Linked DNA regions of Homo sapiens: region 2 is linked to region 1. Evidence: fine-mapped expression QTL. A gene starts in region 1. The other region holds a variant in brackets. All regions are shown on one strand. Distances are from middle to middle.

The links. PIP is the estimated chance that this variant, and not a neighbour inherited with it, causes the effect.
Region 2: its variant is the best candidate, but not a certain one, in a credible set for the expression of FAM201A in whole blood (INTERVAL, PIP 0.73).

Annotation. Positions count from the first base shown.
Region 1 is chr9:38,618,921-38,623,307 of GRCh38, forward strand. It overlaps FAM201A (family with sequence similarity 201 member A), which reads left to right and starts at 2,168. Exons shown (of 2, transcript NR_027294.1): 1 at 2,168-2,445; 2 at 2,912-4,364. ANKRD18A (ankyrin repeat domain 18A) reads right to left here and starts at 1,676. Exons shown (of 16, transcript NM_147195.4): 1 at 1,160-1,676. The coding sequence starts at 1,365. RefSeq lists enhancers at 2,322-2,441, 3,094-3,303.
Region 2 is chr9:38,544,518-38,548,904 of GRCh38, forward strand. FAM95C (family with sequence similarity 95 member C) reads right to left here and starts at 855. Exons shown (of 3, transcript NR_047651.1): 1 at 799-855; 2 at 1-121. The variant C/T (reference allele first, on the strand shown) is at 1,916.

The DNA of each region.
Region 1 (4,387 bases):
TAATCAGTAATATGTATTATATATAATAAAGAATAAATTCCCTGTAGGATGAAGATACACTTTTCATCTGAATATATATTTTTATATATTAGTAAAAATATATATAGGAAATATTTTTCGAGTGTGTTATCTTTTGTTAATTTTTTTCTGATACACAGGGGATTTTAATTTTTAGTTTGCTAAATCAACTTTCAGAATGCCTGCTTGCGAGGTCATTCTTACGAAGGCCTTTGTTAACATAAAATGTACCTGTATAAATAAGTCTTTGCGTTTTCTTCTGGTACTTTTTCTCATTTTGCATGTGTAAAAATTTCAGTCTGAATTCCATCAGGAACCCATTTTTGCGACATAAAGTTTCATTAGTTTTCTTCACACAGCAGGCATTTTATTAATAACTCATCTTTTCCTACTCATCTGAAACGTTACCATTATCCATCCCTATGTATATATCTTACATATATTTCAGTGTTTTTGGATTTCCTGTTCTGTTCCATTTATTTATCTGTGTTTTCAGCTGTTAGTAAATAATTAATTGTGGGAATTAATAGCACATTTTGATATCTAGAGGAGCAAGTCTTTTCACTCCATTATAAACATTTTTAAATGTCATCACAATGGTAAGATAGATAGCAAGTGTCATGCAAAAATGATAAAACCTTGATATCTTCATTCAGTTTATGTAAAACTGATAAACATGGAAACAGTTCATATTTTGAGAAAACTGAGTCTTCCCATTCAAGGAACCCACCTCGCGCTTCCCAGTGTCCCTCTAAGAAGCTCCAGTAAAGAACCTGTCTACCTAGGTGGATTCGGATGTAAAACCGACACAGGGTTTTATCTGAGAACTCTTCGCCTACTGAAAAAGGCTCATGGTATTTTTGACAGGGGAATGAGTTCTCATTAGGCACCTCCCTATCATGTATATGGCCCCATGTTTTAAACGTGGATATGCCTAACTTTGTGAGTTAAATCACTCAAATTTTCCACCAAGCGCGACGGACGGGGAATTGCCAGCGACGGAAAGCAGCTGAGGCTCCATTTGGCTCCGCTGCTCCGAGGGTGCCCGGCGCCCTCCAAGGTCCCCGCCCCAGGGGCTGCCGGGCTGCAGGGAAGCCGGGCCTGCGGCCCCCTCCCACCGCGGGCTGAGTCCCCGAGCTACCTGTCTTTTCTGTCGCGGGCGTCCAAGTCCCGGAACCTGCGCGTCAGGCAGCGCTCCACCTCCGCGGCGTCGCCCTTGATGGCAGCCCTGTGGATCTTCCGCAGTTCCCAGTCCCGAATGTCGTAACCCGGACCCGCATACTCTTGGTCCATGGAGCTCAGGAGCGCCTGGCCCAGGCGTCTCCCGAAGCTGAAGAGCTTCCTCATGGTGGCGACTTCTCAGACGCCCACCACCCGCTCCTGAGCCGCGGCGGCTCCTCGTGGCCTTTCCACCCCCACTCCGCCCCAAATCCGCGATCTCCCCCGCAACCCGCGATCCCCCCCGCAACCCGCGATCCACCCCCAAATCCAAGATCCACCCCCAAACCCGCAATGTAGCTCAGAATCCGCGATCCAGCCCGGTCCACCACAGCCTTCAGCAGCGACACTCGCAGACTCCGACCTCTCAGACCGAGTGAGCCCAGCTAAGCCGTTAGGCGCGCGCCTGAACCTCAGCGCTCCGAACTCTCAGACCGAGTGAGTCCCCGCGATGCCAGTTAGGCGCGCGCCTACAACTCAGCGCCAGCCGGGACTCCGGAAGCCGCTCCCAAGCCCTCGTGGCCGGCAGGGGGCACCTGCAGCACGGGCGCACGCGTCGCTGGCTTGCGGGTTCTCCTGGGCTCCCGCGGGACGTCCCGGAATCCCAGGAGTGCATCCCTTCCCGCCTGAGGGCCTGCCTGGCCCTGACTCCCGACCCGCTCCTCCTCCGAAGAGAGATCGGGGCCGCTGACAGGGGCCCTCCGCAGCCACCGGGGATGGGACTGGGGGGTCGGTTCCTGTCCCGGTGCAGCCGCCGCCGGGTAGACCGCCTGGCTTGGCCGCAGCCAGGGCGACATGTAGCCCCGGTTCTGCCAGGCTGGGAGCGCCAGCCATCTTGGGAGTTGCCAGGCAGCTGTCGCCAGCAGGTAGAGGGCGCCTGCAGCTTGGGCGCCCAGGTGGTGGAGCACGGCCTAGGCGGCCTCTGGATCGCGAGTGCACCTGGCCTGAGAGCCCGCCAGGCCCTGCCCCTGCTCGGCTCCTCGTCTGCTGAAGCTCGGGACCTCTAGCCAGTGGCCCTCTGCAGCCACGGGGAATGGGGCTGAGAGCCGGTTCCCGCTGCAGGGCAGACCACCTAGCTCAGCCGCAGCCACAGGGACATCTGGCCCCGGTTCTGAGATGTGGGGAGTGCTGGCGGGCTCGGGGGTTGCCTGGAGGCTGCTGCCTGCACACAGAAGGCGGATGCAGCTTGGGTGCCCAGGCGGGCTGGAGGTGCATGGCCTGGTCGGCCTCGGGATCGCCAGCGCGCCCAGCCTGAGGGCCCCCAGGCCGTGCCTCCCGCCCATTCCTCCACCGGAGGGGGATCGGGGTCGCTGGCATGGGCACTTGGCAGTCACTCCGGATGGGGTTGAGCAGGGGTTCTCAGTTTTCGCCCCTGTGCAGCCGCCGCCGGGCAGAATGCCTGGCTTGGCCGCAGCCACTGCTACACCTAGCGGGTCGGGCGGGCCGGGGGGTGAAAGCGCTGGGAGGCGGGTGCCTTCTCGCCCTGTGGCGCCTCTGGGCCCCACGGCTTGTCGGCCTCCGGCGCGCAGGGCTCCCCAGCATCCTGGGCGCCGGCCCGCTGCCTGCACAAAGTCAACTCAGACAGGATGAACTTCGGTTGCCTTGTCTGGCTGGGCTGCCAGGCGGGGCAGCTGACCTGCTGATGGGGTGACTTTCTTCATCTTCTTGCCCACAGGACAGCGGGCTGGGAAGCCAGGGGCCGCCGGGACCTGGGGCTGGAAACCACATCTGCCCACAGCCGCAGCCTCCTGCACCTGTCATCCTGGCGGCGCCCTGACGTCGGAGAAGCAGCAGGCGCGGAGCTCCTGCAGCGGGCACCGCTGCAGCAACCCGACCCGGCGCAGGCGGCAGTGGAAGGCGGCCTGCTAGCACGGCTCCCGCGGCCCCAGGACCAGGGGTGCGGCCAGCACCGCCCTCACTCCCCGCGTCTCGTGGATATTGCCCTCCCTGGAGGCGGCTGGACCTAAGCGAGGCTCGCAGCGATCGGCCCCGCGAAGACTCGCATGCAGGGCTCAGGATCCCGCATTCTGGCGCCGCGGCACCGCACCTTTCAGCAGCCCTGCTCCTCTTCTTGTTGGTAAACTTTTGTCACTCTGCCATGAAAAGCATCCAGGCGTCCTTGATTTCGACATTGCGTGCACGCTCAGCCGAGCTCATCAGACGGGCGGTTGTCCCCAGAGCCCGCGGGTAGCTTGTTCCCGGGCGGCGGCTCCTGCTGGATGCAGCTCCTTGTGGGCCTACCAGGCTTGGTGGAGCCACAGCAGACCTGTGGAGAGGAAGAGTAAGGCGGGCTCTGCAGGGCAGTGGGCCGGGACCATGAGAGAGGCGGGTCAGTCTGGGCTCCAAGCTCAGCCTCTCGGATTCCCCGGGACCCACGGCTTATAATGCGCTTAAATCCCACGCCTCGCCCGAGAGACAGCACGTCACCGTCACCGTCACCGCCTAGCGCCCCTGACCCGCTCCCACTCCGCTGCAGCGGAGGGTGTGTGAGGGAGAGGGACGCAGGGAGGGAAAAGCGTTGGGAGGGCAAACATCTTTTCATAAGCTTTTCCCCTTCTATATGCCATCTCTGATGGGAGCCTCTTTAGATCTTTCGTCCATTTACTAATTGGGTTGTTCGATTTCTTATTGTTGAGTTGTAAGTGGTTTTTAATGGTCTGGATGCCAGACAGGTGTTTTGCAAATATTTTCTCCGTCTGTGGCTTGTTTCTCCATTCTCTTATTTCCTTTCCCAGAGCAAAAGTTTTTAATTGTAACGACTTCATACCAATATCTTCTTTCATGGTAGAAATTTGTCTTTTATGTACTTTACTGTTGTATCTACAAAGTAATTGCCAAACCCAAAGTTACCTAAATATCCCTTTTGTTATTTTACAGAAGTTTTACAGCTTTTGGATTTAAATTTAGGTCTAAAAATTGAATTCATAAAAGTAGAGAGTATAATGATGCTTACCAGAGGCTGTGTTGCTGGGGAGAAAAATGGGAAGTTGTTCACAGATGCAAAGATTCAGTTAAACCGGAGAAATGCGTTTTGAAATCTATTGCACAGCAGGATGACTATAGTCAATAATAATGTACTGTATATTTAAATAACAAAAAGTAAATTTCAAATATCTAACCACAAAAAATAAAATTGAGGTGATGGGTATTT
Region 2 (4,387 bases), 74 kb before region 1:
GGGTGCAGGGAGGGGCAGGTGCATGCTGGGAGGTCAGACCCTGCGAGGGCTGTGGGGGCATCAGGCGGAGTGGGCTCCAGGTGCACCCTCAATGCACTGGGCAGGTCTCAGGCCAGGCTCCCTGGACCCCGGCTGGGTGATGTGGTCACTCCCTGGGGGACTGCTGTCAGGCCCTGGCCACCCACCCTGGGCAGCACCGTCCTATCTCAGGACTGGAATTTCTGCAGTCTGAGACAGGACAGTACTGTCCAGGCCTGACAGACTGGGAGGACCCGTTAAGTCCTCCATCCCTAGACCAGCCTCCCACACAGCAAGGACAGTCTCTTAGCTCTACCTTCAGGGCACTGACTGATCCTGCTCACTCTGAGGCAACCAAGGCAGAGCTGAGGACCTGTGCCAAGGCTGGGAGCCAGTCCCCTCCCTAAATGGGCCTGAGGGAAGCACCATCCCTGTCCCAGTCCACTGCAAGCTTCAGCCCAGGAGACACATAGGGAAGGGAGGACGGAGCCCCTCTGCTTCCTGACACTGCAAAAGCGGGACCCAGGAGAAGAGGGAGTACAGGGCTGGCAGGGGACACTCCAGGCCAATGGAGAGCTCCAGCTGCACCATGGGGCTGCCCCTCCTGGGCTGGAGGCTGTGCCCTCTGCAGGATCTGAGAAAGTCCAGTCCTGAGATGGGACAGTGCTGCCCATGGTGGGTGCCCGGTGCCTGACAGCAGTCCCCCAGGGAGTGACCACATCACCCAGCCGGGGTCCAGGGAGCCTGGCCTGAGACCTGCCCAGTGCATTGAGGGTGCACCTGGAGCCCACTGCGCCTGATGCCCCCACAGCCCTCACAGGGTCTGACCTCCCAGCATGCACCTGCCTCTCCCTGCACCCTGCTGCCCACCCTGCCTGTTCCCTGGCTTCCTCCATCCTGTGCAGCCCATAGACTGTGACCATCTATCTGGCCACTGTGGCCCTTCCTTTCCCTTTGTCCTGTTGGAATCTCTGAGCAAGATCTCCCAGGTCCATCGAAACACCTGCTTTGTCCAGTTTTGACTGGGTCTTTGGGCACTACTGGGCCATCCCAACTGTCCACAGGGCCCTCAATAACGTGCATTGCACCTGACATCTCCCAGCAGTGCTCAGCAGCCCCTGCTGACCAGGTCCAGGTCCCTGCTGGCCATATCCCACACATCAGGTCCTCCCTGACCACACTCTCACTGATTAGAACCCCATGACCAGGCCCCACTAACCAGGCCCTTGCTGCTAGGCCAACAGTGTCCAGGACCCCACTGACCAGGACCTTACTGACCAGGGCCTCACTGACCAGGTTCTTACTGACCAGGGCCTCACTGACCAGGTTCCACTGATCATGACCCCATTGCCTGGCACCATAGATGAGGCCCCACTGACCAGGCCTCCAGGGAACAGGCTGCCACTGACCAGGCCCCTATTAACCAGGCCATAGGTGACAAGATGCCCCTGACTGTGACCCTAGTGAGTAGGCCCCACTGAATAGGCACCCACTGCTCAGATCCCTGCTGACCAGGTCACCCCACAGACCACTGCTACAAGAGCCACCACTGAATGCGCTCTCTCTGAACAGGCCGCCACTGATTAGGTTCCACTGACCAGGCTGCGCTGACCAGGGCCCCACTGACAAGGGCCTCACTGATGAGGACATGGCCAGCAGGCCCTGCTGACTGGGTCCCATGTGACCAGGCCTCCAATGAATAGCACCCCTTGAGCTGGTCACCAGTGACCCGGCCCATGCTGACAAGGCCACCACTAAGCCCCAGCTGACCAGGTCTCCATTGACAAAGTCCTGCAGCCTAGTTTTACACTGACCAGACACCAAACAAGTGGCTGCCACTAGGTCCCCACTCACCAAGACCCCACTACTAGATCCCCCTAATGAGACCCTCTCTAAG[C/T]AGACCCCTGCTGACCACACCCCCCAATAAATAGGCCTCACTGACCAAGTCCCAGCTGACTAGGTCCACTGATGAGGCCCACACTGATCAGGGCCCTCATAACCATACCAGAAGGACAAGCGACAATGAGATATTTCATATGGCAGGAGTAGGAGCAAGACAGAGAGAGAAAGGAGGTGCCACATCCTGTTATACAACCAGATCTCATGAGAACTCACTATCAGGAGATCAGCATCAAGAAGATTAACCACTGGTGAAGGAAACACCACCCACACCACCACCCACTGTTTGCAGGCAGAAGCCTCCTGCAGAGGCAGAGCCTCTTGGGAAACTTCTACCATGGCAGTGCAGAAGGGAAACATGGGCTTGGAGCCCCGACACAGGAGGTCACCATCCTCCAGACCCCAGATTCATAAGCCCACCAACAGTTCACATCCTCAGTATGGAAAAGCTACAGGCACTCCACACCAGCCTAGCCCATGAGAGCAGACATGGGGGCTGAAGCCTGCAAAGCTGCAGGTGCACTGCCCTAGCAGAGGTTTCCCATGAGCCTCTGCCTCTGAAGCAGACTACTCCCCCTTCCTACTACCCACCACCCTCCCACCACCCTACTGCCAACCTACTTCCCACCCTACCCACCCCTTTTCCTTCCAACCCCAAACCCCTCCTGCCATGATTACATCACCTCCCACCAGGCCCCACCTCCAACATTAAGGAGTACATTCCACAGGAGTTTTGGTAAAGAAACACAGCCAAACCATATTATTCTGACCCTGGTACCCCAGAATCTCATGTCCTTCTCACAGAGCAAAATACATTCATGCCTTGTCAAAAGTTTCCAAAAGTCTTAACTCATTCCAGCATTAACTCAAATGTAAAAAGTTCAACATCTCATCTGAGACAAGTCTACAGTCCCTTGCACCTATGAGTCCCTGAATTTAAAAGGATGTTCTTTTCTTTCAGGGTACAATGATGGTACAGGCATTGGGTAAGCTTTCTCAATTCAAAGGGAAGAAATTTCCCAGGAAAAAACCACAAATAGAACCACACACCCAATGCAAGTCCAAAACCCAGGAGGCCAGTATCCATTCAATCTCACAGCTCCAAAATCACGAAGAGAACTCACTAGCATAAGCACAGCAATAAGGAGATGGTGTTTAATCATTTGTGAAGGATCCACCTCCCACCACCACTTTTCACCCCTCACCCCCACCATAATCCCCTCATTCTCCCTACCCCCCACCTTCCAACCCACACTCTCCACCATGATTAAATCACCCTCCACCAGGCCCCACCTTTAACTTTATTATTCTGTCCCTGGCTCCCAAATCTCATGTCCTTCTCACATTGCAAAATACAATGATGCCTTCCCTACAGTCCCCCCAAATCTTGTATCATTCCAGCATTTATACAAATGTCCAAAGCTTAAAGTCTCATCTGACACAAGGCTATACAGTCCCTTAGGCACATAAGCCTCTGAACTATAAAGCAAGTTAACTGCTGCCAAGCTACAATGCTTGTGCAGGCAATGGGTAAGCATTCTCAACTGAAAGGAAAAATTTTGCCAGAAAGAGCAAAACACATAGAGGACTTACAGGCCCCATGAAACTCCAAACCCAGAAGGCCAGTCATTCAATCCTACAGTTCCAAAATCACCCTTTTTGAAACGTTGTCCCACATCCAGGGCACAGGGACATGAGGGCTGGGCTCTGAAGGCCTTGGGCAGCCCTGCACCTGTGGCTTTGCAGGGTTTATGCCCCACAGCTGCCCCCATGGACTGGGCGGGTGTTGAGTGCCTACAGCTTTTCCTGACTGATGGTACAAGCTGTTGGTGGGTCTATGAATCTGGGGTCTGCATGACGGTGGCCTCCAGTGTGGGGGCTCCAACCCCATATTTTCCTTCTGCACTGCCCTAGTAGAAGTTTCTTATGAGGCTCTGCATTTTTGGGATGCTTTTGTCTGGTCACCCAGGCATTTCCATACATCTTCCAAAGTCTACAAAAAGGCTCCCAAGCCTCTAGTCTCATGATCCATCCACCTAGTGGCTTAACACTATGAGGAAGTTACCAAGGCTTCTAGCTTGCACCCTCTGAAGCAGTGACCCAAGCTGCATCTGTGCATTTTCAGCCATGGCTGGAGCTGGAGCTGCAGGGACGCAGGCAGCAGTGCCCTGAGGCTGCACATAGAGCGGGGTCACAGGACTGGCCCAGGAAACCATGCTTCTCTCCTAGGGCCCAGGGCCTGTGATAGCAAGGGCTGCTGCAAAGGTCTCCGAAATGCCGTCAAGGGCTTTTCCCTATTGTCTTGGCTATTAGCACTGGGCTCCTTTTCATGCAAGTTTCTGAAGCCTTCCTGAATTTTCCCCCTGAAAATCAGCTTTTCTTTTTGACCACTTGGCCAGGCTGCAAATTTTCCAAACTTTTGAGTCCTGTTTCTCATTTAACATAAGAGTTGGGACTCATTTAATATAAG